Linked DNA regions of Homo sapiens. The protein of the gene in region 3 interacts with the protein of the main gene of each other region in a biochemical or structural test. Each region holds a gene or a part of one and is shown on either strand. Other genes may lie near its edges. The genes, in order: ABL1, MAPK1, CASP9 and ARNT.

Region 1 (7,853 bases), on a different chromosome or scaffold from region 3:
ATCACAGCTCACTGCAGCCTTGAGCTCCTGGTCTCAAGCAACCCTCCCACCTCAGCCTCCCAAGTAGCTGGGGCTGCAGGCATATGCTACCTGACTAATTAAAATTTTTTTTTTTTTTTTGTAGAGACAGGGTCTCACTATTTTTACTAGTTTGCCCGGGCCAAGCCAGTGTTGAACTACTGGCCTCAAGTGATCCTCCCACCTTGGCCTCCCCAAAGTGCATCCCTACAGGCATGAGCCACTGCACTCAGCCTGAACTTTCGAAATTTATTTTAAGGGCCCACTTTTAAATGCTTCTTTTCAGCAGCTAACTTTCCAGCGGATGCTTCATGTGGTGCCAGCCATACAGATACGCTTTTAGAACTTGAGCTTTGGAGAAGCTTATGCTTGCTTTCTGCTCTCTCCTGAGGTCATCAGATACTTCCCTTGTTCAGTAACAAAGAAAGTGAGACTCTTTCTGTTACCTAATAAAAGGCCAGTCTGTCCATTTCATTTTGGGTGCTATTAACATTGTTGACCATTTACAATGTCACAGGCCCTGGCACTGAGCACATCATGTGCAGCCTCACTTAATTTTCACACCAGTGCCCTGAGGTTTCTAGAAAAGAGGAAGGGCCCCAGTTTAGGTGGCAGTACTTTTCAATTTGGAGGCAGGAGATCCCAGTTTTCCTCTGACCTCTCTGAGCTTCCGTGTTTTTACCTCTAAGACAGAGAGACCAATCTCTGTTCAGCCACCTTAGAGGATTGTTTTGAGGGTCTATAAGATGATTGAGGGAAAGCTCTGAAACTGGTAAGAGTTAAATGTATGTTTGTGTTATGTTGATACGAGATTCCTCTGAGATGCTCTTTAGTCCAGGCAGGTTTATGGCTCACACAGCGTTCCTAGGGTCTCATTCTTCTGCACAGGCAGGCAGCTCCCGAGCCAGCCAGTCTGGACCCAAATGCCACCTGTGCTCTTGGCTGGTCTTGCGCATTCACCGAGGCTCACTGTACCTTGGTGTTCCCATTTCTAAAATAAGGCCTGTAGTAATCCCTACCTCACTGAGTTGTTGAGAGACTTCATGTAAATTGTTTAGCAGGGAGCCTGGCACAGAACAAGAGCCTAGCAGAAAAGTAAGCTGTTGTTACTTTAAGCAAATATTTAGCAGCCTAAAATGGTGGCTTTACCAGTTTCTGTAATGGTTGAAGTGATGACAGAATTCAGCCAATCCCACCCATAGTTTTTCTTGCTAATAAAGCAGTTTGTTTCTAAGTGTGTTTTGATGCGTATAATTAATACTTCCTGTCCTTGATTTTTGGCTGAAAAATGTCTTCTCTTCCTCGCACCCTCTGTTATTCCCGTAGTGAATATTTTCATTGTGGAAGAGAAATTCCCATTGGCTCATGGTTGGCATTTTATTTCTCCTGTCCAGAGACAATATTTCCACAGCCTCAAACGTGAAAACTGAAAATCTGGTGCCACTTACCACCTTGTAAAATCAAGTCATTGTAATTGTGCCAGTATAATCATTGATCTGAAATAAAAGCAGAAAATAAATCAATGGGTAGCTTTCTTAAATACATAAGAACTAAAGATCAAATGGGATATTGGAAGACTTTAACTTTTCCTCCATAATGGTGGATCTTAATTAAACACACAGAAGAACAATTTATAAAATAAATTCATAGGTTTGTTTGTTCTTTTTTAGTGTCAATTTTTAAAACTATCTCTTTTTTAATTAAAAAAAATAGAGATGGGTCTCACTATGTCGCCCAGGCTGGTCTCAAACTCCTGGGCTCAAGCAATCCTCCCACCTCAGCCTCCCAAAGTGCTGGGATTACAGGCATGAGCCACTGCACCCAGCCTAAAACTGTCTCAAAAGTAGACAGCATAATGAACTCCCATGTACTTATGATGTGGCTTTAACAATTATCAGCTTATAGTCAGTCTTGTTTTCTTACATAATAAAGTTACAGTTTCAAAGCCATTAGGAAGAATAGCTTGCTAATTATAATTACTTAGTTTTGATAGTGTAACTTTGTCCTCAGATGGGTAGAATCGTTACTCTGGAACAGGGGTGTCCAATCTTGGCTTCCCTGGGCCACATTGGGAGAAAAATTGTCTTGGGCCACACGTAAAACATACTAACGATAGCTGATGAGCTAAACCAACAAAACAAATCCCACAAAAATCTCATTTCTTTTTTTTTTTGAGACAAGAGTCTCACTCTGTCGCCCAGACTGGAGTGCAGTTGCACGATCTCAGCTCACTGCAAGCTCCGCCTCCTGGGTTCACGCCATTCTCCTGCCTCAGCCTCCCTAGTAGAGGGTACTACAGGCGCCCGGGGGTTTCACCATGTTAGCCAGGATGGTCTCCATCTCCTGACCTCGTGATCCGCCCACCTCGGCCTCCCAAAGCCCTGGGATTACAGGCGTGAGCCACTGCACCGGGCCAAAAATCTTATAATGTTTTTAAGAAAGTTTGCAAATTTGTTAGGCCACATTCAAAGCCGTCCTGGGCCATATGCAGCCCGTGGGCCATGGGTTGAACAAGCTTGCTCTAGAAATTGGTTTTCAGGCCGGGCGCGGTGGCTGACGCCTGTAATCCCAGCACTTTGGGAGGCCGAGGCAGGTGGTCACCTGAGGTCAGGAGTTCGAGACCAGCCTGGCCAACATGCTGAAACCCTGTCTCTACTAAAAATATAAAAAATTAGCCAGGCGTAGTGGGGAGTGCCTGTAATCCCAGCTACTCAGGAGGCTAAGGCAGGAGAATTACTTGAACCTGGGAGGCAGAGGTTGCAGTGAGCCGCGATCTCACCATTGTACTCCAGCCTGGGCAACGAGCAAAAACTCCAGCTCAAAAAAAAAAGTTGGTTTTCAAATCCTTCTTTCTTTACCATGTTACACCATAAATATTTTTGTTATATTGCGTGTGTTGAGTACTGGTGATAGGGAAGACAGAGAGAAATAGGTGGGAAGGAGATAGAGAGAGAGAGAGGGAGGGAGGAAGGGGAGACATAAGGGGGAAATCTATAGAGACAGAGACTGAGAGACAAATACAAAAAGGTTGAGACAGGAAAGGGAAAAAAAAACAAGCTGGGAGGGAAGGAAGACTGAGAGAAGGGAGACAAAGAGGAATAGGATGGCCAGTGGGGCTGGGGTGGGTGGGTACAGAGAGAGAATGAGTGAGAGCAAGAGAAGCGCAGGAGACAGATGATGGACAGGCAGCTGATGTATGGATGGGTAGCTGGAGAGAGAGGCCATCAGTAACTTCACATCTCTCTGTTTCCATTTCCTGCCCTCAAATGCCTTCATAATAGAGTCTACGTAATAAGGTTATAGGGATTCAGTGCAGATGAAGTGCTGGCACTTGATACGGGATCAGTAAGTATTAGCTATTATTCTATCACATTAAGTTGCATAAACTTTAACCTCATTACTCTTAAATTCTCTATAGAAACCTAGTCTTTATCTGTCTTACAAGCCCTCAAATTTAGCTAATAGCGTTGTTCATTGAATACCTTAAAATTGTATTTAAAGACAGGCCGTGAATACAATTAGGCATTGCTTTTTGAAGCCAAAATACCATGAGGGTGGGGAGGGTCATGTTCATTTACCCAGATCAGCAATAAAAATACTAATGGCTAACAAGGCTTTCTGGGGAAATTGCCTGTCATTGGGTAGCCCAGTGCCTCTGGTGTCAGCTGACCCCGGAGTCCATGAAGACATGTTAAAAGAAGAGGAAATGTGAATGCTTTCAAACCAGCCATGGCTGGCAGCAGAAGGGGAGGCCTTTCAGTCTGTTGCAAATGGCCTGTGACAATAAAAATGCCTTTGTGGGTATTAGCAGGCTGACTGTGGACAGTCTGGATCTGCGGCCACTGCAGGGATTCCTGGAACCTGTTGGGAAGGTGTCCGGCGAGCTCACTGTGGTGTCTGTTAGGAATCTGGAGCAAATCCTATTTCTTTTGAAAGCACAGAGAACTGTGTTTTTACATTATACCTTTAGGATTTTGGCCATGGTTTATATTTCAGTCAAAACAAATCATTATGTTCCCTAGGCTTTTATATAGGTTTTCCTGGTCAGGTTGCATTTGTTTTTCAACTTTACTATCTGTCATTATTGCTGCTCTTATTACAGGTTAACAGATTATTAAACTGCACTTTTCAGTACCTTGTAGCTAAAGACAGACAAGTGCAGGGTGTTCCACATCTGAGTTCACCCAGCAGTGCTGTGTTGTTGCGTTGCACTGAGCAGGCACAGAAGGCTCTGAGATATGAGAGACTTGGTCTCTACCCCAGAGGAGTTTACATTGTTGTGGTGGCAGAAGAGAAGGCGTGGCATAAGAGAAGACGCGGTTGTTCTGTAGTGAGCATCCCAGTGTCAGGTGCCACAGTTGGCATCCATGCAGAAATTCTCTGCATGCAGGATTCATTGAGCCCTCCCGACAGCCCAACTAGGTTGATGCCATGCCGTTGTTGCCCTGTTGTGCAGTTGAGAAACTGAGGCTCAGAAACAAATGTCTTCAAGACATGCTGGTGCTGAGGTTTGAACAAGGCCTGTCCACCCAGAGCCCATGCTTTTTGTACTGCTGGGGACATGTGAACAGATTGCTTACTGGGTGATAGATGCAGGGTGGTGATAGAGACAGACACCAGGTACCCAAATGGGTTAAAGGAGAAGCATCCTGTTGTGGGCGAGGTGATGGGGAGGAGGAAGGACCGGTTAGAGAAGGTTTATGGGAGATGGGGAGGCCAGGAAGAGCAGAAGAGGCTGGGGAACGAACTCTAGGGAGAGTAAATGGCACTTGTCACAGTGCAGTCAGGAGAGGCAAGCAACAGGAGGCCTGGGGGATCTGAAAGGAGTTTGGAGAGGCTGGAATGGAAAGCAGGAGTAGAGGGCCAGATGCTCCCAGTCTCAACCCTGAAGAGCCTGGCATGCCTGCTTCAGGAGCTCAGACTTTTACTATAGTGGTGGAAGGAATAACAACCCCAGCCATTTTTTGAGGGCCTGTGCATGCCTAGGCCCTCAAAAACATGTCCCATGTTAGCTGCAAACTGCCAGCTACCCTGCAAAGCACATCATGATCCCAGCATTGCCCCCGATGACACTGCCAGTAAGTGGTAGCTGACCATTGGGAGACAGGGCCACCTCCCAAGCCCATGCTCTCTTCTGCCTCTCGGCTGGCAGCCATCTCTAAGGGATTTGAAGCAAGAGAGTGACCTGGTCAGGTCTGCATTTGAGAAAGATGGCCCTGATAGTAGGGAGTGGAGGTGGAATGGCCAAAGGGGGACCCAGCCAAGGGCGTGGTAGAGCATGGAAAGGACAGAAGTGATGAGAGATTGAGGAGGAAAAGTGCCAAGATGCAGGGTGGGAACTGACAGAGGATGACTTCCAGCCTCAGTCCTGATATGGGCGTCAATGGCAGGTGTTCAGAATGGCCTTGAAGATAGTGGCATCTCTATTTATGAGTGTCTTTGTACTCCATTTCCAGTAATTGGAGACTTTTTCACCGTAGATTCTTGGAAGGTGACACAATTTTTTTTTTTTCCTTTTTGGTTGAGGGAGGGGGACAGGGACTGTGTATCTTCAGAAAGGTTAATATTTGAGGCCAAGGCAGGCAGATCACTTGAGGTCAGGAGTTCAAGACCAGCCTGGCCAACATGGTGAAACCCCGTCTTTACTAAAGATATAAAAATTAGCTGGGCATGGTGGTAGGCGCCTGTAATCCTAGCTACTCAGGAGGTTGAGGCAGGAGACTCACTTGAACCCGGGAGGCGGAGGTTGAAGTGAGCCAAGATCGCGCCACCGCACTCCAGCCTGAATGACAAGAGTGAAACTCGGTTTCCCCACCAAACAAAAAAAGAAATACCTAGTTTCTACCAGAGACAGTCACAGGCACTGTACTTCTACTCTGGTTTGTTACCTGTGTTCTTAAAAAAATTAAATGCTACATTTTAGTAAGAGGTTAGTGAAATAAAATTTTAATTTTTCCCATCAGAGGACATGGAGCCCTTGAATTCTATCCCAGACTCCCAGGGTCTTCCAGGTTAACAAGTCCTGCACTAAGGAATTGGCTCAGTAAAACCTCAGCATTCTCACAGGAAGAGCCTAAAAAGGAGACTGGGATAAATTAGTGAGAGGTCCAAATTATGCAATTTTCTTTTAAAATAAATGCAGTTTTATTACTTTCCACTTGTAGCCATTATAGGCAGTAGATTAAATGAGTTTCTAGAGAAACCTCCTTTAAAAATAAAGTTATTTAATTAGTCCAAGGTTTAAATATTTCCCCTGGAATCTTTTACATGACAATGTCTTAGCCAGACAATTTTTAAGAAACAAAATTCTCCATCCTAACTCCTATCCCCATCAACAGTCCAAATCTTAACCTTTCTTTTTTTTTTTTTAGACAGAGTCGAGCTCTGTTGCCCAGGCTGGAGCGTGGTGATGCAATCTTGGCTCACTGCAACCTCCACCTTCCGGGTTCAAGCGAAACCCCTGCCTCAGCCTCCCGAGTAGCTGGGACTGCAGATGTGCACCACCACGCCCAGCTAATTGTTGTATTTTTAGTAGAGACGTGGTTTAGTAGAGACGACCTCCCAAAGTGCTGGGATTACAGGAGTGAGCCACCACACCTGGCCAGAAACCAGGTGTTTGATATCAGGTGACGGTTGTGATCATTGTTCGCACCACTACTTTGAAATGACATAGTTGCCACTGGACCTTGTTATTTAATGTGCGAATAAAGAGACAGTTATTTAAGGCATTAATAAGAGCTATATTACAAGTTTTTAAAAGTCTTTTGAGGACTGTTTCAAAAAGTCTTTTGAGGACTGTTCTCCTTTGCAATCCTCTGTAAATGCACCATTGCATTCCAACCCGGGCAACAAGAGCAAAACTCTATCTAAAAAAAAAAAAATTCATCCACAGGACAGCGCTGGCCTTCCGTTAGACTTTTGCTGTTGAGTCTGTAAGTTTTCAGCAGCTGTGTTTCTCCAAGGAGCGGGGCTACTGCTGGTTCTTTACGTCTTTCCCCCACTGCCCTGCCCCTCCCTGCACCCTAGCAGCTGACACAGTGTTTTGGGATTTGAAGATAACACAAAGGCTGTGTTCAGTTAAACGTATGTCTGTGTGTGTGTGTGTGTGTGTGTGTGTGCTTGTGTGTGTGTGTGTTTTAATAATTTTAACTTCTCTGGGTGAAGGTGTAAATTACAAAATAAAGGACCATGTAGAAATAGATAAAATGACTTTCATCAAGCTCAAAATGTGGGAAATAATACTTTTCCTCTAAGCTCATATTTTGAAAAGTTGTTTGAGACTGTTATAAAATAACTTGAGAATAGTCTGAGCATGATCTCATCCGCTGGAACGGAGTATGAAATAAAACACGAAGCCTCTTTTTAGAAGGATCTGTTTTATAGATTTTTAAATTACAGAGATTCCTTGAACTGGAGGATAATAGCGAAGGACCCACAAAGGAAATATGAATAAAGCAGCACAAGTTTAAATAATTGAATGTGAGCAAAATTAAAGGGAACGTTTGTCACGTCTGACATGCTCCATCCTCCTGTCCCCCCCACACTGAACCGTCTCCAAGAACCTTCCGGAGAGCCCACAGTGTGAACAGTAATGAATGCTCCATAGCTGGCCGCCTTGCACTCTAGTGGGAACTATGATGTTGGGCACAAGTGCCAGCAGGAAGGTGGGAAGCTTCCCGGGGATGTTTTTCCTGGAGGTCAAGTCCCCCCTTGGGCTGTGAAGTAGCCGGTACTGGGGTTCATGGGCATTTCCCTTCCCTGACTGTTCGCCAGCGTCTGGCACAGCACCAGCAGCCCCTGGAAGTCTAGGCCAGATATGCCATGTCCGAGAATCT
Region 2 (7,853 bases), on a different chromosome or scaffold from region 3:
ATCCTGGAAACATTAAGAACCACTGAAGTAGAACAGAGGACCAACCAGGTAACTCTGGCAAAGAAGAGGAAACTGATGACTGGTCAGATGTATAAGGGAACAGTGTAGACGGGGAGGAGGGAGAGGAGGAGAGATTGAAACACTCTTAGTATGCTTGGTCATCTTAGACTAAGATAGCAAGTGTCTATTTTGGTTTAATTGAGTTTGAAATGCTGTTTCTGAATGCGACAAGAGAGCTCATGGGGTCATCTTCATAGAGATATTAATTGAAGCCTTAAGAGTGGATAAGACATCTGAGAACTAAGCCAAAGGAGTGCCTGCCTTTACTGTGTCAATAAAGGTCAAGTTATGGAAGAGGACAGAGGAAATGTGGCCAGAGAGACCAAAGAACTGGGAGTGCACGTTATCAAAGGAGCCAAGGGAGATGGTACTCATTAAGGGATTGGTATTGAGTACTATAGGAGGGAAACAGAATGCAGCTGACAAGCCATTATATTTGTTGACTTTCAGCTCTTTTTTTTTTTGAGACAGAGTCTTGTTCTGTCGCCCAGGCTGGAGTGCAGTTGCACAATCTCGGCTCACTGCAACCTCCGCCTCCTGGGTTCAAGTGATTCTCTTGCCTCAGCCTCCCGAGTAGCTAGGATTACAGGTGTGTGCCACCACACCCGGCTAATTTTTTTATTTTTAGTAGAGACGGGGTATTGCCATGTTGGCCAGGCTGGTCTCAAACTCCTGACCTCAGGTGATCCCCCTGCTTCAGCCTCCCAAAGTGCTAGGATTACAGTGTGAACCACTGTGCCTGGCCTCTTTTTTTTTTTTTTTAAAGCGGGGATGTTCAACTTGGGAAAGCTGAATGAATAAAAGAAAAAAGAGGGGGATGGTTTCAACTAAAATTTCATTGTGATCACATTCCTGATGGTACAATGTCCTCCTGTCTTGTTAAGGTTATTGTGATTATAGCAGACTAGTAGAACTACCACTTTTTCAGCACTCTTGTTTTGTATTTTACATACATTAATGCTAAGCCATATAACTGTACAGCAAAAGTGGTAACTTCTGTTTGTTTTTTACCCCACAAGTGAAGAAACTTGAGGCACACAGAGGTTAGTTAACTTGCCCAATGACACACAGCTAGGAAGTGATGAAGCAACCCCAGTTTTTCTGGTTCCTAAGTAGTGCTCCACCAAAGATCAGAGTTGAGAAAATAGATTATTTCAGTAACAAGAAATATCTGTTGTCTGCTTTTGCTTGTATCACTTTTTAGCCTTTAAAACCTTTCATGTAGAGTTATTTACTCAGAAAATGTTTATTGAACTCTTCATCCAAATAATGGGATGGAATTGGGGAATAATACAGAGAAGATACCAGTGTTACCCAGGAGTTTGTGAAGTGCTGAGAGGAAGAGAAGAGCTGAGTGACTTGGGGCTGTCTTTCTTTGGCTTCCCAGACTTCTGAGCTAGGTGTTGATGTGTGAGTAGGAGTTTGCCTTGAGAAATGCCTTCTAGGCAAAGCGAAGTGTGCATGTAAAGGCACAGACCGTGAACACAGTGCATCAGGTCAGGAAAACCACAAATTACTTGGGAAGGCTGGAGTGTAGGGTGCCTTAGTAAGAAGGTGGGAGTTGAGACAGCTGGGGGTAGGCAGGGCCAAATCCTGAAGGGCATTATTTGGTAAGGACTTTGGACTTGATCTTGTGGGTGACGGAGTCATTAAAGGATGGCCCTGTTTCTGTCTGCCAGTTCCACTCCCACTTTATCTCTTATGCTTTCTGCCCATTTTGCCTACTTACTTACTTTTTTTTTGAGACAGAGTTTTGCTTGGAGGCTCACTGCAACCTTGCCTCCTGGGTTCAAGCAATTCTGCCTCAGCCTCCTGAGTGGCTGGGATTACAGGTGTGTGCTACCATGCCTGGCTAATTTTTGTATTTTTAGTAGAGACAGGATTTCGCCATGTTGTCCAGGCTGGTCTCAAACTCCTGACCTCAGGTGATCCACCTGCCTCGGCCTCCCAAAGTGCTGGGATTACAGGCGTGAGCCATTGCACCTGGCCGCATTGTGCCTACTTTATCTCGTGGTACTCAGTGGGGGTGATTTTACCTCCCTGCTACAGAGGCATTTGGAAATGTATAGGGGGGCGGCTTTTTGTTGTGTTGTCACGTTGATTAGGGGGTGTTATTGGCCGTCAGTAGGCATGTCAAGGGCAGACATGCTAAATGGTCTGGATTGCACGGTACACTCCCTCCACTGGAGAATCATCCTGCCAAGATGCCCATAGTACAGCACCCCAGCCTGCCCCAAGAAACATCAGGCTCTATTTAAGTCCCGCTTTTCTCTAAAGCTCATCTCTATGAACTTTGCCCTATTGCTTCCTGTTAATGCACTCTCTTCATGGATCTCTGCTGGGTGTTTGTACCACCTGTTTGAAAGGCAGGAACAGCAATAACATATATCATATATAAAAACTCTAGACCTGGAGACAGAGATATTGAGATTCTTAATTTTGCTTGCTCATTGTTTACTTAACTTTTTTAATCAAGAAGTCTCCTCTACACTTTTGGAGCTCAAAGATGCAAGGACAGCAGCTTACATGAGTAACAGAAGAATCTAGTGTTTCTGAGCAGAGTTTAGAGTAAAAGGATAAGTCAAAACAAAATTAATTTTTATATTAATAGCATCCCTAATGATGTATTCCTGGTAGTTAGCTATAACCATTACACCATTCCCATAATCTGATTTGTGTAAATTCAAGTTGACTTTTCCCCAAAACTGTATGTAATTTATTCCTCACCTTGCTCACAATTTATATACCTATTAATTGAAAAACACCTCATTCCCCAACAAACATCTAGAGCTCCTTGCCTCCGGCCTACTCCACCCACCCTCTTGCCTAATCCTGAGATGCTATTTTGCTCCCCTTTAGATTTGCTTTTTTTCTTTCACTTCTTGAGGCTCCCACACTGAAAGGTGCCTAGGAGCTCATCCAGTAGCTGCGCTGTCTCTGCTCCCTCTAGGAAAGGCCACCTGCCTGAGCTTTGAAATGGCCCACACCGTACCAGAAGGAAGAAGAGAGATTCCAGGAGGATTCAGACGTTACCCAGGCTTTCTGGAAACTGAGCAGAACCACAGGAGGAGAAAGCTATAGGCAGCTGAACAAAATTTATGTGTTTCTATTTCCCCTGCTATAACATGAAAGGACTGGGCTCTGTCTGTGGTTTTCAAATCTCCTCCTCTCTTAGGGGCTTCAGGCCTCACCCCAAATAGGGAAACTTCACATACAGCATTCTCTCCCCTAATCCCTGTTTTTTCTATTCTTTGCTCTTCTCTTATCTACCTCCTTCCCCTCCCGTTTCCCTTCTTCCTCTGCCCTTAGTCTTTTTTCTTTTTCTTAATTTCCTTTTAGTCATTATCATCTTCAGTTCACATAGGTAGTAACTATTAGGGTTAGCAGGGCAAGATCCCATTTGGAAAAAGGATTTGATTGCTTTGAAAATGATGTTGGGCAACCCACAGGATAGATGGTCTCCAAGGTCCCTCCCAGATTCTCAGACTCAAGGCAGGCCCTGGGGTTTGAACCTATGGCCAGTAGGAGCTGGATAGCAGGTGTCTGCATGGATAATATGCCATGATCAACTGACTAATGTTAGTTGCAAGCCTGCCTTGCTGGTTTAAGCTTCATTCTCATTCTTGTCTTTTTTTTTTTTTTTTTTTTTGAGACAGAGTCTCACTCTGTTGCCCAGGCTGGAGTGCAGTGGCGCGATCTTGGCTCACTGCAACCTCTGCCCCCAGGTTCAAGCAGTTCTCCTGTCTCAGCCTCCTGAGTAGCTAGGATTACAGGTGCCTGCCACTGTACCTGGCTAAGTTTTTTTTTTTTTTTGTAGTTTTTAGTAGAGATGGGCTTTCACCCTGTTGCCCAGGCTGGTCTTGAACTCCTGACCTCGTGATCCATTCGCCTCAGCCTCCCAGAGTGCTGGGATTACAGGTGTGAGCCACCGCGCCTGACCGTCATCCTTGTCTTTGAGGTATTATATTTTGCACTTTACACATAAGGGAACTGGGTGTCAGGTAACTCGTTCAGGGTTCACAGCCAGTAAGTATATTGCAGAACTGAGATGTAAATTGAGATTTATGCAGACCCCAAATCCTGTGACCTTTTTTCTTTTAACTACTATAGGCTTTTCTCTGTTATACCGAGTTACCTAGAAACGTACTTCCTACAGCCTGGGTTCCTGAATGGATTAGCCCTAAAGTATAAAATGATTATGCCATTGCAGACAGACCTGAAGAAGAGGCTAGAAAGGATTAGAGTTAAAGTAACTTTGTTTTTTGTTTTTGTTTTTTCTTTATCTCCAAAGGATCTGTCATCTAGCAACTTAATTTTTATCAGGAAGCAGTATTGATTTCTTCCCATTCCTTCTAGTTACCTCTACCAGTTTCTTGATTTTCATTCATTTAATATTATTAAACACGTACCGGATTATGTGCTAGGCAGTAGGAACAAAGTAGTGAACAAAAGTTGTTCTTACTCTTTGGTGTTTACAGTCCAACAGGGCAGTAATAACATTTACTGAGTATGGTGAGGTGTGGAGTGCCACTGGATGATATAAGATATTCTGAGTAGTCATGAAGGGTTTCCGGGAGGAAGTGGTGTTTAAGCTGGGACCTGAAGGAAGACTTAGAGCTAGCTGGGTAAAAGGTAGGGTAGAGTGCTGGAATGTTTTAGGCACTACTTTGTAGAGACTGCATTATAGAAAATGAAAAGTTTATGATTAAGATCTGGGGGCCTTTGTCATATTACTGCAAGGATAGAAAGTGCAGTTAAAGCTTTAGGTATAGTTGGAACCAGGAACTGGAAAATAGACCAACGTAGCTACCTCCCTCCCTCTTTACAGTTACAAAAGCTTCTTGTACCCTACATCTCTCAGCAGCTGGATTTTCCCCCCTCTTTTCTCTTTTGTCACTTCCCCATGCACTCAGCAGAGGAGAGCTGACCCTAGCTCCCTGAAGGTATGTGTCTTCAGGTTTTTTGATGACCAGAGGCTGAGAACACTCTGAATCCAATTCCAAGTGGAACAGAATGTGTAAAAACACTGTTAGGGAGATCATTCTGCACAGAACAGCTCACTCCACCTGGCCTTTCCAGCCTGGGAGAGTGTCTGCCTCTGGTCTAGTCAGCTGAGGCCCAAGGTGGGGTCATTTATTAAATAAAGCTGCATATCTCGGAATGTCTAAAGGGCAAGGTGGGAATTGTCAAAAGGGGTCTCATTGATTTCTGACTTGTTAGGTTAAAGTTCTTGGTACTGTTTTCCCTGTCATTCTCCAGGGAGTGTGTATCACTCTCCGGTTTTTACAGATGAGGAAAATGAAACAAAAGTTGGGTAACTTGCCAGTCACAAGTAAGGGGTCAAAGGATTGTCATGAGTATTAAATAAAACAGTATACTTGAAGTCCTGAGCACTTGGTACCTAGTTAATGCTCTGTTATTCCTTTGAAGTAAACAGGGTTGACAAGATGTGAATCCCCCTTTGTCTCGGTCTCTATGTAAAGCAGCATGTGCAGAAGTACAAATATTTGGCTTGGTGGTCAGATGACTTTACAATGGTATGGAAGTGATACACATGCAGTAGAAACCTTACTTCCGAGTACCCACGCAACTGTTCTGTTTTTCATTTTCAGTATAGTATTTCATACATCATATGAGTTACTCAACACTTTTATTATAAAATGGGCTTTGCGTTAGATGATTTTGCCCAACTGTAGGCTAATGTAAGTGCTCTGAACATGTTTAAGGTAGGCTAAGCTAAGCTGTGATGTTTGGTAAGTTAGGTGTATTAAATGTATTTTCAGCTAGGCTGGGTGCAGGACTCATGCCTATAATCCCAGGACTTTGGGAGACCGAGGCATGAGGATTCCTTGAGCTTAGGAGTTTGAGACCAATCTAGGCAACATAGTGAGGCCTTTTCTGTACTAAAGGTACTAAAAATTAAAAAAAAAAAAAATTAGCCAGGTGTGGTGGTACGTGCCTATAGTCCCAGCTACTTGGGAGCCTGGGGCTGAGGATCGCTTGAACCTGAGTGGTCAAGGCTACAGTGAGCCGTCGTCGTGTCACCGCATTCCCGCCTGGCAACAGAGCAAGAAACTTTCCCAAAAAAAACAAGCATTTCACCTTATGAGGTTTTCCATTTATGAAGGGTTTATTGGGATGTAAGTCCATAGTAAGTCAAGGAGCATCTTTATATAGTTAGAATAGGGACAGTCAAGTGTTTCATGCATAATCCAAATCTTCAGGAGGCAACATCAAGGTAACCCGAGTTTAGGGATATTCTGCAAAATAACTGGCCTGTAAACCTCAAAATTAAGTCAAGATCATGGAACCAAGAAAACACTGAGGAATTGTTCCACACTAAAGAAGTGTGCAGAAACATGGCAACTCCATGTGGTTCATGATTCTGAATCGGCATGATTGGCAAAACTAGAATGTCTGAAAATTAGATTGTAGTCGTGTATCTGTGTTAATGATTTTATTTTTATCTTCTTTTTTTTTTAACTCTTCTTTTTTTTGGTATTTTCTTTTTTGTTTTGGTTTGTCCTTCCTTTTTTTTGTTGTTTTTTGTTTTTTGTTACAAACCCTTGTGTCGATAGCTGACTGCTCTGCTGTATACGAAACCCTGACCCAGAAACAGGTTGTCTGTGAATGGTTTAGCACAGGTCCCCCGTGAATGTGCATTGTGTGACGGGCAAAAGTGTGGCCGCCTTTCTACTGTGCCAAGTTTTCCAGCATGAGAGGCTTTCCATATCTGGTCCTCAGATATGTGGTGTGAATGAAGGGGGGACCAGCTATCCGAGGCCAACCGAGGCTCCACAGTTGGCTGCCATGTCATTTTGCCTGGGCGGGATTCTGACTTAGAGGCCTTTGGTCATAATCTGACAGGTGAGCGTTGACGATTTTGATGGTAGCATTTTGTTTGTATGGGAGAATAGTCTAGTTTTGTTTGTTGGAAATAGTCACTAAAGTATTGGGGGATAATGAGAAAGAAATACTGGCAAACTTACTCTCACATGCTTCAGAGACTAAAAGTTTGATAAGCTAGATATAGAACTTTTCCTATGGTTTGAGATATAGTTCCTTTTCTCTAAAGAGTTGTCGGTGAGTCCCTTTCAGAAACGTACTTGAGTGAGGATGTGTTGAAATTTGTGGGAAGCTGTGAAAGGCAGCTTTTAGCCTACCAAAAGAGGACTGGCCTGGAAGGCAAGAGACCTGAGTCTTGGTCCCTGCTTCTGATGACATGTCACATGGGCATGTGCTCGTCACTCTGCTTCTGCAAGTTTTTGTGTTTCTCATCTGTGGAGTTAAGGGATTGGGATGGTCTCTAGGGTCTCGTACAGCTCTAATATTGTCACCGCCCTCAGGAACATTACATGAAATTAGCATATATGCAATATATTAAGATTCATGTGTGGATTGTTTCCCAGTTACTAGCGCTGTCTTTAATGTAATTTACCTCAGAAATCTCTGGATAATCATTATTGAGATATAATGAAATAGGGAAAAACTTGAGGTTAAAAACTAGTAAATTGATTTACTTCAACATTAAAAGCCCACAATTAAACCCTTGAGGAAAATGACTATTTTTATTTTTTATTTTTTGCTCTGCAAGTAAGGTTGGAACTTCGTAATACTGTATGACAGTAGTCGTTTACCTCACGAATTAGATTATTCATGTGTGTTTGACTGAAGAGAGTTTTTACCTAGTGACTGGAATGAATGTTAATGCTGCTATTTTGGCATTGGAAAAAAAAGGTGTAATGAAAAATGTCAAGTTTGAGAGAGAGAGAAATACTTAAATAGAACTGATT
Region 3 (7,853 bases):
TTGTCACTGTGATTAAGCCCTTACCCCTTACTGGGCCTCAGTTTCCTCATCTTTTAAGTTGAGGAGTTGGACAGATCACAGTTATAAGCTGGGGCCTGGAGTCCCCCTGTGGTCTGCACGGTGTTTTGAAAACTGGCAAATTTCACATAAAAATCAGGATTTCTAGTTTCTCTTGACAAACCGCAAAGGTCTGGCCTGACGAGGCCAGCATCTTCAGCCAGTAAAACTCCAGCCTGTGGCTGGGCAGGGCTTTCCCTTTGGTCCTTTCTCTCATAATATGGTCCCTAGAGCTCATGAAGAATGTGGACTCCCAGGCCCTACCCTGGACCTCTTCATTCCAAGTCCGCCCAGCAACAAGGTTTCCAGGTGATTTCCATGCCCTTGAGGTCTGAGCTGAACTGATTTAAAGCAGCCACTCTCAGCGTTGAGCTGCCTCAGTCAGAGGGGCCTGGAGGACCATACTGCTGATTAGGAGGTCTGGGTGGGGCCCAGGAATCACATTTCTTACAAGTTCCCAAGCGATATTGATGCCGCTGCTGCAGGGGCCAAACTTTGAGAACCACTGGTCTAGAGGCCGCAGCCAGCACTCTCCAGGCACACTGGCCCCTAGAGGCACATGAGTTTGACATGCAACCCCTTGCTGTCAAGGTGTCTTTCCAGATGCTGACCAGGGTCTTTCCAGAACCAACCTGCTCTGTCTCAATCAGCCTCGTGCCCCTGGCTTTGACCTTCCAAATCCTTGGCTCCCACAAAACCTCTGAACAGGCTGTTGGATTCCTACTCCAACTTCTTGGTTTTGTAACCAGGGTTCTTGGTCTTCTAGGCCAGCCACCTGCAGTTCCCAGGGGCTGTCTACGGCACAGATGGATGCCCTGTGTCGGTCGAGAAGATTGTGAACATCTTCAATGGGACCAGCTGCCCCAGCCTGGGAGGGAAGCCCAAGCTCTTTTTCATCCAGGCCTGTGGTGGGGGTAAGCAGCTCCTCAGCCTCCCTCTGGGTGGGTCTGGTGGGGAGGGAGCCGCCACCTGCTTCTTTCTCCAGCCTGCCCCTCACAGGGCCCATGAGGTCTCTCCAGGCAGTCAGAGGGTACCACACATGGTCCCTTTTTGGCAGCACCTCTGTCTGGCTGGAGCAGGCCCTGCTCTGTCTGCTTTGTAGAGGTCAGAGTCTTCTGTTTCATGGCACAGTGGCATCATGGGCTCAAGTAACTTTGGCAGCTTCAATTCCAAAGACTTGGCAAAAAGAAAGCAGAAGAGAGAGGAGAAACCTCTTTTTATTTTTCTTGTCACCATTCTCCTGACCTCCATCAACTAGACCCCGTTTCCACTATCCCAGAGAAAGGGTGGCCACAGCTAAACTGCATGGAGAAACCAAAGAATTTAAATATTGGAATTTTCAAAAGTGTAGTTGTGGGGGTTCGAGGAACATTTAAAGATTACTTGGGCTGGGTGCAGTGTCTCATGCCCAACACTTTGGGAGGCCGAGGCAGGAGGATTGCTTGAGCCAGGAGTTCGAGACCAGCCTGGGCAACACAGCGAGACCCTGTCTCTATTTTTGTTTTGTTTTTTAAATGTATTACTTGGATTCTTTGTAGTTTTGCTGTATGCTCTAATTTTAAACTTAACTCCTATTACAGTGTTATCTGATTTTCTTATAAAAAAAGAGGGAAGAGAGACAAACATGGGGTTCCTAGTTTGTGGGTCATGACAGGAATATCAGGGAGCGCTAGAAATTCTGTCCCAGGGAGTCCCCTCTGCCCTAGGCTCTCCACGGACTGGAACATTCAGAAGGTATATCAGTTCCTTGCCTCCAGCCTGATCTGCCAGAGAAGTGAGCACTGTTATACCATAGCGCTGTCCAGCTCGTCCAGCTGTGACATGGGCACCTGTGGTCTATTTCTCCTGTGCACATCCAACTGCCCCATCCCTATTCCACGTTGGTGGAGTTGGGTGGAGGCTACCTAGGAGAGCAGTCTCTGGTCACATCATTCATCCAGTAAGTGTTTATTGAGCACCATCTGTATATACCAGGCTGTGCGTTAGGTGCTGGGGATAGGGGAAAAACAGAGTTTCAGTCTCCTGGAATTTATAATTTGACATGAACTGTATTAAGTCACTGTCATGACCCATGCCCATAACTTGACCACAAGTGATTGAGAACACTTGATTAACCCTGGATGGGCTACTGACCTATCTATCACACAGCCCTGGGCCAGTTCATCTCTAGACAGCTCAGCAAATGGGGAAAATAACAGAACCCACTCCCAAGCTCAGGTGATCCTCCCACCTCAGCCTCCTGAGTAGCTGGGGCTACAGGTGCACACTACCATGCCCAGCTAATTTTTCTATTTTTTTTTTGTAGAGACAGGGTTTTGCCATGTTGCCCAGGCTGGTCTTGAACTCCTGGGTTCAAGCAATCTGCTCACTTCGGCCTCCCAAAGTGCTGGGATTACAGGCGTGAGCCACTGTGCCCAGGCAACTTTAATAATATTTAATGCACTAATTGGTGTGTGTACAGTGATTGGTTCATTTTAATAACTGAAAACCCAGCCTGCCCCCCGCTCCCACCCCGGAGGACCCAGTGTCACATAAGAGTCCCCCACCCCGCTGTCGCCAGCAGAGTTCCCTCAGGACAACAGTAACAGGAAGTGAGGAAGGCTGCCACTCTCGGGGCTGTAGAAACCCTGCTCTGCCTCACCTCCTGTCTTATCCACAGTGTGTGGTCCAGCAATGCTCTTCCTTCGGAGCCTCCGGTCCCTCTTTCTCCTATGAATCAAATGAAAGACAGAAAGGGCAGGGGAATTAGGAATGCAGGCTGAGCAGGCATACCTACTTTCTGGACAGTTAGTCAGTCTTGTGCTCCTCCCATGCCCCATCCAGTCTCAGTCTCAACAGCAGGGAGGGCCTTTGTCACGTGAATATCTGCTGTCACTCTTAGGACTCAGTAGCAGGGCTTCCAAGGCCTTTGGTGACCTGGCCCCTGCCACTTCACCTTCCCCAGCCTGGCATGCTCCGAGTCCCCAGCACGGCCCAGCCTTCCCAGGATGTCCAGGCTCTTGCTTGCTCTTCTACCTGCTCCCCTGGCTAACTCTTTTTTTAAAATTCATTTTTACTTATTTTGTTTTAGAGATGGGGGTCTCACTATATTGCCCAGGCTAGTCTTGAACTGTTGGGTTCAAGTGATACTCCCACCTCCGCCTCCCAAAGTGCTGGGATAACAGGCATGAGCCACCGTGCCTGGCACCTGGCTGACTCTTAATCATCCATCCTTCTGGTTACAATTTATTGTCACTTCCCTAAACACCCCCTTTCTTGGCCAAAGTCAGGGTTAGCTGGCCTTTGTGCTCCTGCAGCCTCTGTCCCTCCCCTACCATAGCACTGTCTCATTGTATTGAGATGGGCTTATCCCCTGGTCAGCTCTGAGGGGAGGGCCAGGCCTACCCTGCAGCCAGGCCCCCAGCCTGGCACAGAGCCCACAGTCTGGTTGCGTCTCATGTGGATTCTAATTTGAATGTAAAGGAGAACCATACAAAAGCATCTGTGGTGGTTCACGCCTGTAATCCCAACAGTTTGGGAGGCCAAGGTGGGAGGATCTCTTGAGACGAGGAGTTTGAGACCAGTCTCTATCATAAAATTTAAAACATTAGCCAGGCCTGGTGGTGTGTGCCTATGGTCCCAGCTACTTGGGATGTTTAGGCAGGAAGATCGCTTGAGCCCTGGAGGTCGAGGCTACAGTGAGCCATGTTTACACTATTGCACTCCGGCCTGAGTGACAGAGCCAGTCTGTCACCTGTCTCTAAAAAAATAAAAAATAAAAAAAAAATATGAGCCAAATTTGGCATAATGTAGATTTCCATCATTAAAACAAAACTCACAGAAAACAGCAAGATTTCAAAGCCAGCATGCAGTGATTAAGATATCCCTTTGGAGTCGGGTCCTTGCTTTGCCTCCGCAGGCTGCGTGACCTGGTGCTTAACGCAGTTACCACATGGTGGCGCCACGTCAGCTGAGAGCAGAAATAGAAAGGTCCCCGTTCTTCACTAGTGCCTGGCGAGGGGTCTGTTTACATGCATCAGAACACCTGTCCTGGGTTTTGAGGACTCTTGTATTGCTATTTTATAACTCACTATAATACTTTAAAAATATTTAATTTAAAAATCATTTAATAATTAATTTAAATATAATAATAAATAATTTAAAAATCATTTTTAAATAATAATTTTAAAACCCTCCAACATGTCATCCACCCATTCATTAGGAGGTAACAGCACCAGGGCTGAAAAATGTGCATTAAAGTCGATAACTTTGGTGTGCAACGTCAGCGTGATAGGCAACCAAGTAGCCACCTCTCTGAGGCTGAGCCGTCAATTTTGGGGTGACCCCTCTTTGGGATTTGAGAGATCGGGCTGAGAAGACAGAAAGCAATGACAATATGCTGCAGTGGTCGTGGATTTTCTGTGCGGAGGGAACATCTCCTCCTACTGTATATTTATTCTTGTGGGGAATGAGTCCTGCCCTACGGGGAGTTTTGCATTAATGAGGCTCTCTAAGAACCGAGGCTCTCCAAGAACCAAGCCATGCATACAGTGCAGAACACCCTAGGCAAGGCCTTCACATCAGATTTGTGGGCTGAGGCTGACACGTGAACGGAGCTGCCTTAGCGCCCCGCCTGACCCCCTCTTTCCTTTCCCCCACACCCCCTGCTCTGATCTGCTGTCTCTTCTCAGCCTCTCTGCTCACCCTGTCTCTTCTGGCCATTCTTAACGGCATCCCCCACTTAGGCATCCCTCCGCCCCCACAGGCTGCCAGGCAGACCCAGCACCATCACATTCACGCCTCAGGCCTCCTTGCTGTGCTGTTTCACGTCATTCCCAGACACCTGGGGCAGATTCCGGAGTCTCTACCAAGAAAACAACCAGAAGCAATGAACCACAAAATCTGGAGAAAAACATGGCTGTCACAGATCAAAGAGGCCCCCCTTTGGAGGCTGGGGGCCTCCGTGAGAAGCAGTGGGATAGTTGAGAGGCAAAAAACATGGGGCAGAATTCCGCGCCCCTCATATCAGCTGGGAGAATGCCAATGACCAGTGGTTTCTGAGCTTTAGCTGTGTGGGGTAAGAGGTCAATAGATTTTGGTGTTACTATTATGGGGTTGCCAGAGCCACCTCTGTTCCTGCCAGATGGGCCCCCAGCTCCTCTGGGTGAACTGTGACTTCCCTCAGTCACATAGATCCAGCCATGCAAACCTGCCTGCGTTGCGGCCACAGCACTTGCTGTCTCTCTCACCAGGACCGTTCTCCCTGATGGCATCAGGGCCTGGATCACAGTCACATTCTCCAGGAGTGTTTTTGCAGGGGACCCTCTGGATCACTCCTACTCCAACTTCAGCCTATTTTTAAAAAAATTTCTCTTTTTTTTTCTGCAGTATGTATACATAGTTAAATATATATTTATATTTTTTAACCAAAGCTCTTGTTAGATGCCTTCTTTCCTGAGTAGCCCTCTGTGCTCCGCCTTACCCCACCCACCATGAGCCCTACTGCAGAAGACCTCATCCCGGAAGACCTCCGTCAGTGTCTCCACTTCAGTAGCTCTGTAGCTGAGCCATGTGGGGCACAAGTCCTGCCAGGACCTCTCTGTTTTCCAAGCTTGGCACTGCCTTTGGGGAGTCTAGATTTTAAAATGGAAAAGACAAAAAATATGGCAACCTAAAAAAGAAAATAATTCAGAATGTTATAAGCTAATACAGCCATCTCATTTTTGCATCTTCCTTTTGGATTCCAGCCCATGAGCACAGTCTGCTTTTCTCAGCTAACGTTATCCCTTAAGCAGTTCCCCAGATCTCCATGGCCTTCATCATCACTAGCTCAAATGGCTTTATAATGGGCCATTTTCATGACATGCACTAATTTACTAAACCATTTTCCTAATGTCGGCCATTTAGGTGATATCTAATTTTTGGCTCACACAACCACAGGTGTCTTCATATAGAAAGCTTTTGACTGCATTTGAATTATTTTCTTAGGAAATTACTGGATTAGAAGGTGTAAACATCTCCATGGATTTCATTATCCATGACTTGGTGTCTATTTGGTATTTTTCTGATGGCTTCTTTGATTCTAGAAAAGGATTTGCCATAGTGCAAGAAGTACAAATGATAACACTAGGACAAAATAGAGAGGGAACACAAGGAGAGAAGAAAAGTAAAAGTTTGGATTCCAAAAATACATCCTAGGATGTCCTGCAGCTTTCTACAGTTCTCTAATGTACAAGTGAATTAAAAATTTAAGGTATACAACGACTGATTTTAGAGATAAAATCACTTTGCAGATGTAAAGAAACATGGAAAAATCCCAGCCATTGGTAATAGTAGACTCAAAAATGAGGTAGGTCAAAGTCCCAGTCAGCCTCTGTCTGGGGGGAAACCCCTTAACTTATCTCAGTCTCAGTTGCCTAATTACATAAAATGGAATACTGATAGCTACTTGCTAGAGGTGGCCTGCGCATTTTTTACGCTTTCCAGCCGCCATTGGAAATAAGATCATTGGCCAGGGGCGGTGGCTCACGCCTGTCATCCCAGCACTTTGGGAGGCTGAGGCGGGCAGATCACGAGGTCAGGAGATCAAGACCATCCTGGCTAACACAGTGAAGCCCCATCTCTACAAATAATTAGCCAGGTGTGGTGGCACACGCCTGTAGTCCCAGCTACTTGGGAGGCTGAGACAGGAGAATCGCTTGAACCCAGGAGGCGAAGCTTGCAGTGAGCCATCGCGCCACTGCATTCCAGCCTGGATGACAGAGCGAGACTCTGTCTCAAAAAAAAAAAAAAAAAAAAAAAAAGATCACTTTCAAGATCCATGGAATCTGGTGTTCTATAGTTCTATATCTGGTATTTGCAAGACAGAAGTCAGGAATAGAGACTCCAGACACATTTCTTCCCTTGGTTGTCTTAAAGGGGACACTGTGATCTTGACAGCCTGAGTAAAGGGTTTGAGTGAGTGCCTATGATATAGTGGACAGTTTCCTCAACTATATTTCTAAAAAAAGACAAGTTTTATGTCTTTTTAAAAATTGTGGCAAAATACATATAACATAAAATTTACTATCTTAACCATTTTTTTGGGGTGATTGCTTGAGCTCAGGAGTTTGAGGCTGGAGCGAGTTAAGATCATGCCACTTCAATCTGGGCAACAGAGCAAAAGTGTGTCTCTTAAAAAAAAAAATGCCTGTAATCCCAGCACTTTGGGAGGCCAAGGCAGGCAGATTGCTTGAGCCCAGGAGTTTGAGACCAGCCCGGGCAACATGGCAAGATCCTGTCTCTACAAAAAATACAAAAATTAACTGGGTGTGGTGGCACCTGTAGTCCCAGCTACTTGAGAGGCTGAGGTGGGGGATCACTTGAGCCTGGCAGGTCAAGGCTGCAGTGAGCTGTGATTGCACCACTGCACTCCAGCCTGGGTGACAGAATGAGACTCTCTCAAAAAACAAAAACAAAAACAAAAAACAATCCCCCAAAACAAAACAAAAAACCACTGCCCTCTCCCCACTGAATGGTCCTGCCACCCTTTTCAAAATTCATTTGACCACGCATGTGAGGGTGTATGTCTGGGCTCTATTCAATGACATTGACCTATGTCTGTCTTTATGCCAGTACCATACTGTTTTGATTACTGTAGCTTTGTAGTAAGTTTTGAAATCAGGAAGTGTGAGTCCTCCAATTTTGCTCTTTTTCCAGATTGTTTTGTCTATTTGGGGTCCCTTGAGATTCTCGTGTGAATTTTAGGATAGATTTTCTATTTCTGCAAAAAACATCATTGGGGTTTTGATAGGGATTACATTTAATCTATGGATTGC
Region 4 (7,853 bases), about 140 Mb from region 3:
GTTTTTGTTTTTGTTTTGTTTTGTTTTGTTTGTTTGTAAAGATGGAGTTTCGCCCCATTGCCTAGGCTGGTCTTGAACTCCTGGACTCAGTGACCCTCCCACTTTGACCTCCCAAAGTGCTGGGATTACCGGCGGGAGCCGCTGTGCCTAGCCCAAGCCTTTTTATTCTTCTTGAATCCTGAGATAGAGAGGAAGAGGTGGATAGTGACATAGAGAAAGTGAGGAAACATGTATTAGAAAAAACTTTCTTATCGATGAACTACATTTAGGGTGGAAACCTGTGGCTGTGGATCAGGTGTGAACCAGCAGTTGCTTACGGAGAGATGCATGTGGCCTGAAGTGTCTTACTTCTTCCTGTGAATAGAAATACTTGTTTTTTCAGAGTAAAATATTAACTTCTATTTCTTTTTCTTGCGCAGGAACTGAAACATTTGATCTTGGAGGCAGCAGATGGCTTTCTGTTTATTGTCTCATGTGAGACAGGCAGGGTGGTGTATGTGTCTGACTCCGTGACTCCTGTTTTGAACCAGCCACAGTCTGAATGGTTTGGCAGCACACTCTATGATCAGGTGCACCCAGATGATGTGGATAAACTTCGTGAGCAGCTTTCCACTTCAGAAAATGCCCTGACAGGTGAGAGTTATGTGTATGGGAAATGAATGAGAAGTCCTTTCTTGTTTTTTTCCTGAGACTTAAGAGATGTTTTAGCTGTTAAATTGGTTTGTTGACTCTGGCAAGGCTTCAAGAATTTTCTACTTTAATGAATATAGTCAGTTCTTTTTATCCATATGAGATTATCTACTTTGTGGCTCAGCCTTAGAAAATATTTCATTGGTGATAATATTTTACATTTATCTTAATATTGGTATAAATAGAACAGTAAAAGCCAAACCTACAATACTTTTTTTTTTCCGTTCTAAAAGAATTATCCATGTTTTTATCTCATTTGTATGGATAATTATCTGGTATTTTTTCTACCTCCTGGTGCTTGGCTTTGTGCTAGGTTCAATGATAACAGCTTTTTATTCTATAGATATGGTTATTGGTCAATGTATAAGGTGTTTTCTGTTGTTGTTGTTGTTGTTGTTTGTATCTGTACTGTTGTTCTTTTTTTCTCCCCTATTTTATTATGTTCAGTCTTTTGGCCAGAGTTTGGCTAGAGGAAACAAGTCATATCTATTCTTGAGCAACTCTAGAAAAAAATTTAAAGTGGAAGCAGATAAAAAAACTGGTAGTTAAAATGCAAGAAATTTCAATATACTCATATTAGTGTTGTTGATCTTTAGTTTTCCTCCTTTTTTCCCACCCAAAAAAGAGACAGGGTCTCTCTCTTGCCTAGGCTGGAGTACGGTGGCACATCATAGCTTACTGTAATCTTGAACTCTTCTGGGCTCAGTAATCTGCCTGCTTACAGCTTCTTGAGTAGCTAGGAGTAGTTCATGTCACCACACTTGACCAATTTTTAAATTTTTTGTAGAGACAGGTTCTGTCTGTTGCCCAGACTGGTCTCAAACTCCTGGCCTTCAGCATTCCTCCTCCCATCTTGGCTTCTCAAAGGGCTGGGATTATCGGCATGAGCCACCACACTTGACCAGTTTTCCCCTCCTTTATGTTTTTATGATTTCATTTTTCTAGTTCTTCCTTTTCCCCAAAAGTTGTTCTTCGTTTCTGTATAATAAAGAAGACAAACAGATCTATATGTTTCTATAACATATAAAATTACTTGGTTTTTTTCTTTTTAAAATTTTTTCTTTTTATTCTTTTTTTTTTTTTTGAGACAAGGTCTTGCTTTATTGCTGAGGCTAGAGTACAGTGACTCTTCACAGGCACAGTCATAGCACACTACAGCCTCAAACTCCTGCCCTCAAGCAGTCCTCCTGCCTCAGCCTCCTGATTAGCTGGGACTACAGAAAAGTACTTGTTTTTCAACCAATGACATTTACTCTGTATGTATGTCTGTATGTGTATACAGATAATCAGCTATGAGAATATAGCCTTGCCTCTTGTTTTCTACTACTACTTTCCACTCCTACTTTTCCTTGCACAATGTTATTTTCAATGCTGCCTTTGAACTTAAGAGTGAGATTCATTGATGATAATTGAAGTATTTTAGGCTTGAAAAAAAATTCATCTCCTGCTTGGTCAGTTCTGTTATAAGCAAGGAGATTAAGGGCATGAATAGGATGCTTACTTATCTTTGCCTTCAGTATCTCTCCCCCTCTTCCCCACACACAAAAATGCACTCCAGACTGCTCTTCACATCTTCCTTCAGGGCGTATCCTGGATCTAAAGACTGGAACAGTGAAAAAGGAAGGTCAGCAGTCTTCCATGAGAATGTGTATGGGCTCAAGGAGATCGTTTATTTGCCGAATGAGGTGAGTGTCAAGCTGAGGATTGTGATTTGGTATAGGAAGGATCAAGAGCTGAGAGTTTTATTTCTGTCAGAGTTAAGTTGGATTAGCTCCAGTGGATTAAATTTAACTCTCCATACCCAGATGGATTGTAACACAGAATAAAGTATTTGGAAAGGGAACTAACGTTTCTGAACTTGCCAGACACTATGATAGGTGCTTTATATCTGTCATCTTATTTTATCCTCACAATTGCCTTGTAGTGTAAGATTGATGGTTACCATTTTGCAGATGGAAAAACAGATATAAAGAAATGAACTTGGCCAGGTGCAGTGGCTCAAGGCTGTAATCCCAGCACTTTAGGAGGCTGAGGCGAGTGGATCACCTGAGGTCAGGAGTTTGAGACCAGCCTGGCCAACATGGTGAAACCCCATCTCTACTAAAAAAAAACAACAACAAAATTAGACGGGCGTGGTGGCGTGCGCCCATAATCCCAGCCACTTGGAGGCTGAGGCAGGACAATTGCTTGAACCCAGGAGGTGGAGGTTGCAGTGAGCCGAGATTGTGCCATTACACTCCAGCCTAGGCAAAAAGAGTGAAACTCTGTCTCAAAAAAAAAAAAAAGAAAAAGAAAAAGAAATGAATTTCCCACTGTTACATACTGTTTGATACAGGATTTTGTTTTAATTCATAGTAGTCTGACTACAAAACCTCTACTTTTTCCCTGTTACAACACAAGGCAATATCCATTTACTCAGACCATTTCTTCTTTTTTTTTTTGGTTAGAAATTTGAGACTTCCTATGTCTTTCAGTAGGTGTTTAGTGTTTATAAATTATATACTGTACGTTTTAGGATTCTGTAGAAAATATGGTGGTCCTTTCTATACAGGTACAAAAGGCATCTCAGGGTCACAAAGTTCAGGCTATATAATGGAAATTGACTACATTGTACTGAGAGGATAGTTGCTAGAAATTATGGGTAGGATATTAAAGGTTTGCTTGGAGAGGCACAAAATTGAACATTATGTGGTTTAGTGATTTATTTTTATTTTTATTTATTTATTTTTTTGAGACAGAGTCTTGCTCTGTTGCCCAGGCTGGAGTGCAGTGGCATGATCTTGGGTCATTACAACCTCTACCTCCTGGGTTCAAGCGATTCTCATGCCTCAGTTTCCTGAGTAGCTGGATTGCCACCACAGCTGGCTAATTTTTGTATTTTTAGTAAAACAGTGTTTCACCATGTTGGCCAGGCTGGCCTCAAACTCTTGACCTCAAGTGATTCGCCTGCGTCAGCCTCCCAAAGTGCTGAGATTACAGGCCTGAACCACTGCACCCAGCGTGTAATTTAGAGTAGCTTCTAGACCCAGACTGCTGGATTTTGTTTTAATCCATATTCTATGGATTTGAATTCTAGCTTTGATGCTATCTTCTGAAACCTTGGATGATTACATGACTACATTGTGCTTTGATTTCATCATCTCACATTGGCGATAATGTTAATACTGACTTTATAAAGTTGTTATGAAGATTAGATGAATTAATATATGTAAAGATATTTAGAACAGAGCATGACACATATTAACCCTATGTAAGTTTTATTTTTGTTTTAAAGGATAGGGAGAGGGAAAGTAGCATTGGCAGGAGTATCCCAATATGTGGACATGGCTAATGCAAAGACATAGGCAAGAGCAAGATAATAATGAACTGTAGCAATTACATTAAGTTGTGGTTAATGTAGAGCAGGAGTAAGCAAACCACAGCCCTTTATTTGTAAATAAAGTTTTATTGGAACATAGCCATGCCCATATTTTTACATATTATCTATGGCTATTTTCATGCTATAATGCTAGAGTTGACTAGTTGCAACAGACTTTCTGGCCCGCAAAGCTGAAAATATGTACTATCTGGTCCTTTACAGAAAAAGCTTGCCAACTCTTGATGTTGAGAATGTTTGCATATGAAGAACATATGGAACATTTTGACTTCAAATTCTAAAAGTTTTAGAAATACTAAACTTGACCTATCTTTATCCTTCATTATTAGTAGCATTACCAATTTTCTATGTCTGGTTGTATCCAGAGCATGTTATTCTGCTATTACTGTGGAAAGTTCTTTGATAGGGCAGTCTGATTGCTTTTAATCTCTTTATTCCTTGAAACAGGTGTGGCAGTAGCTCTGTGGACCCAGTTTCTGTGAATAGGCTGAGCTTTGTGAGGAACAGATGCAGGTGAGATCCTAAGTGGTGAAAACCAAAGGGATGGCCAAATACCTGCAGAGATCATCACATTTTTACCTGTCTTACTGTAGTCGTTCCTTCAGCAGCTCTCACTTGCATCCCTTACCTCCCACTTAACATCCCTTACCTCCCACTTACTTTTTTTCTGGCAATATTTTCCTAAACTTCTAAAACTTCTCTTGAAAATCCTGTTTAAGGAAGTCGCTATGCTATTTTACCTACTTTCCTCCTACTGCATACCTTTTGGTTACTTTACTTTGGCAAGGGTAAAAATGTGGCGGTCATTTTTGGGTGGGAAAGATGATTATCCTGTTTTCTAAACTCCTAAGAGCATAAACTTAAAAGTACTAAGGCAGCATTGCCCTTTGAGTTTTACGGGTAGATTTTTTTTTTTTTTTTCAAACTCCTGTAACTCTTCTAGGAATGGACTTGGCTCTGTAAAGGATGGGGAACCTCACTTCGTGGTGGTCCACTGCACAGGCTACATCAAGGCCTGGCCCCCAGCAGGTAAGAAAGTGAAATAGTAAATATTTCCCCTTGGTACAGTTGGTTCCTCACAGAGTCCATGAAAGCTAATATTTATTATATACCTGGTATATGAAATGTACTTTTGTGTAAGATGAAAGAAAATAGGAAAAGAAAATGTACAATCCTTCCCTTCCATTATTGAGCTTTTATTCCAGTTGAGGAGATAGATAACTCAGGCTGGAAAATGATTCAGTATTGGCTGTGTCACAGAATGTGGTTTTTATGTGAACAAATTTATACTGAACATATGTATTCTAAGCATTTGTTGCAAAGAAACTTAGACATTGAATGCAGTTAATTTGAGAAAGATTTCTAAAGTAGGAACAAGACTTTGAGAGAAAAGGGGAAAATGCCTTTATTGTAATAACTTATCAAGAGGATATTCTCTGCAAAGACTTTAAATCAAGCTTTGAGCAGATTAGCTTTACCAGAACTTGAGGTCAAACAAGGAATGTGAGAAAGGTGATTGGGTTGCAGGATCAAAGTTTTAAGTTGGCTTGTCAGAGTTTCCAAATCTTAGCAACTTTATTACTTCCCTGCTGCCTGGGTATTATTGGAAAGTAGGGGTTTTGGGGAGACAGAAACTAAGAGAAAAGAGAAGCAAGGTGATGTGTTTTGGAAAAAGGTTAAACTTTGGATGTGGAGAAACCTGGATGTGATTCCTGTCATTGTTACTTATTAGTGGCATCACCTAGGGTAAGTTGCTTGACCTTTATAAAGCTCAGTTTTCTCATCTGTAATTCAGAGTTAGTACATCCTGTATAGGGTTTTTGTGAGGATTAGATTTAATGTAAGGAAAGCATCCAGCCCAGTGCCTGGCATATGGCAGGTAACCCAATAAAAGTAATTAATGTAATTTAAAAAAATTTAACTGAAGTAGTAATGACATTTGAACTACTTAGTCTATATACTATATAAGCCACACAGTTAAAGTATGTGATCTTTCATACCTCTATGTAGCATCAAGGAATACTATTTTTCTGGATAAAAAGAGTATAACTATGCAAAAAACAGGGGAGAAATGCAGTCTTCTTCCCTTTCTGTGTAAAACATTGGTTTTTCTCTTTTCCAAGGGACATGAATAACTATTGATGGTTGGTATAACTTCATTTTGGGTTGCTTGCTAACTTTAAAAGTTACAGATTAGGCAAAGCATAAATTTTCTGCCTATAACATGGTCATAGAATGGATGTCTTCATATGTGCCATATTTGGCCAGCATAGTTTTTTAGAGTACTCTGGGTAGGACTTGTATTTTCCAGTTTACTATAATTAACATGGGTAAAATGTAGGAATTAATATATATGTAAATACTTAAAACAATGACTGGCATATATGGTAAGTTTTATATACTTGTTTATTCTTATTTATCATTCTCTATTGCTTTATGCTTAGCCTCTTCATAACTAGATGTATTTTGTTTTGTTTTGCTTTTTGGTTTTTTTTTTGAGAGGGAGTCTCACTCTGTCTGTCGCCCAGGCTGGAGTGCAGTAGTGCGATCTCGGCTCACTGCATCCTCCGCCTCCTGGGTTCAAGTGATTCTCTCACCTCAGCCTCCCAAGTAGCTGGGATTACAGGTGCATGCCACCATGCCTGGCTAATTTTTGTATTTTTAGTAGAGATGGGGTTTCACTGTGTCGGCCAGGCTGGTCCTCAAGTGATCCGCCCACCTTGGCTTCCCAAAGTGTTGGGATTACAGGCGTCAGCCACGGTGCCTGGCCCATAAATAGGTCTATTTTGAATCTTTACTTGTCTGAGTTTTGAAGGCATTTGAGTTGGAGGTCCCCGTTAAACCTTTTAACGTCACGTTTCTGAAGGTGTTTCCCTCCCAGATGATGACCCAGAGGCTGGCCAGGGAAGCAAGTTTTGCCTAGTGGCCATTGGCAGATTGCAGGCAAGTATGAATTTTCCACATCTATATTCCCGTTCAATTAGAGCAGATCTTCAGGACTCATTCCTGTTAATTTTCTTTTACTTTCTGAATACAAATGAAGAATTCCATAAAACTCTCAAAATTTGAAGGAATATGGCATTTATAGTGACCATTGCTATTCTTGGATTTAAGTAAAGTTGAAAAGTATGAGAGGAGGGAGATCTTTTTCCCCTTGTCTTAATTTTAGCTTTACTATGCTTAATTTTCTATTTCCAGTTAATTTCCTTTGCCCCTATACAAAAGAAGAAAGATCCTTTTCATTGTATCATTACCTGACTAACAATAGAAAAGTGGAATTATTTTGATTTTTTCATAAGTATAGATAAGTTTCTTGGTTACTTGTACCATATCAACCTGAGTAATGAGTTCAGCATAGCCAGTATGTGGATTTTAGATTGAATAAACTTTATTCTTACTTTACTAACTTGGTAAAGTGTAAATGTATGGGAGCAGAGCTAGACCTTATGCCTTGTCTGATTGTGATTGTCATTTTTTTTTCCTTTTTGGATAAAATGTGAAAGTTTAGAAAGTCCTAAAACTGGGAATCTTATGTCTATGCAAAAGACCATGAGGAGATAGGAAATACATCTGTAAATAATGGTATCATTTTACCTCATTTTTATCTCTTCACTCTCAGGTAACTAGTTCTCCCAACTGTACAGACATGAGTAATGTTTGTCAACCAACAGAGTTCATCTCCCGACACAACATTGAGGGTATCTTCACTTTTGTGGATCACCGCTGTGTGGCTACTGTTGGCTACCAGCCACAGGTGAGGAGCTGGAGCTCCATTAGGCCTCCATTT

Evidence for each region.
Region 1: the proteins of CASP9 (region 3) and ABL1 form a complex in vitro, tested with the Homo sapiens proteins (one study listed by BioGRID).
Region 2: of the proteins of CASP9 (region 3) and MAPK1, one has a biochemical effect on the other in vitro, tested with the Homo sapiens proteins (one study listed by BioGRID).
Region 4: the proteins of CASP9 (region 3) and ARNT form a complex in vitro, tested with the Homo sapiens proteins (one study listed by BioGRID).

Annotation. Positions count from the first base shown.
Region 1 is NC_000009.12:130,838,974-130,846,826, forward strand, and holds part of ABL1 (tyrosine-protein kinase ABL1), read left to right. Parts: intron 1-7,853. UniProt on the Homo sapiens protein: Non-receptor tyrosine-protein kinase that plays a role in many key processes linked to cell growth and survival such as cytoskeleton remodeling in response to extracellular stimuli, cell motility and adhesion, receptor endocytosis, autophagy, DNA damage response and apoptosis.
Region 2 is NC_000022.11:21,855,333-21,863,185, reverse strand, and holds part of MAPK1 (mitogen-activated protein kinase 1), read left to right. Parts: intron 1-7,853. UniProt on the Homo sapiens protein: Serine/threonine kinase which acts as an essential component of the MAP kinase signal transduction pathway. MAPK1/ERK2 and MAPK3/ERK1 are the 2 MAPKs which play an important role in the MAPK/ERK cascade.
Region 3 is NC_000001.11:15,497,729-15,505,581, reverse strand, and holds part of CASP9 (caspase-9 isoform alpha precursor), read left to right. Parts: intron 1-823; coding exon 824-971; intron 972-7,853. UniProt on the Homo sapiens protein: Involved in the activation cascade of caspases responsible for apoptosis execution. Binding of caspase-9 to Apaf-1 leads to activation of the protease which then cleaves and activates effector caspases caspase-3 (CASP3) or caspase-7 (CASP7).
Region 4 is NC_000001.11:150,829,060-150,836,912, reverse strand, and holds part of ARNT (aryl hydrocarbon receptor nuclear translocator), read left to right. Parts: intron 1-419; coding exon 420-633; intron 634-2,272; coding exon 2,273-2,375; intron 2,376-4,513; coding exon 4,514-4,579; intron 4,580-5,009; coding exon 5,010-5,095; intron 5,096-6,932; coding exon 6,933-7,009; intron 7,010-7,685; coding exon 7,686-7,820; intron 7,821-7,853. UniProt on the Homo sapiens protein: Required for activity of the AHR. Upon ligand binding, AHR translocates into the nucleus, where it heterodimerizes with ARNT and induces transcription by binding to xenobiotic response elements (XRE).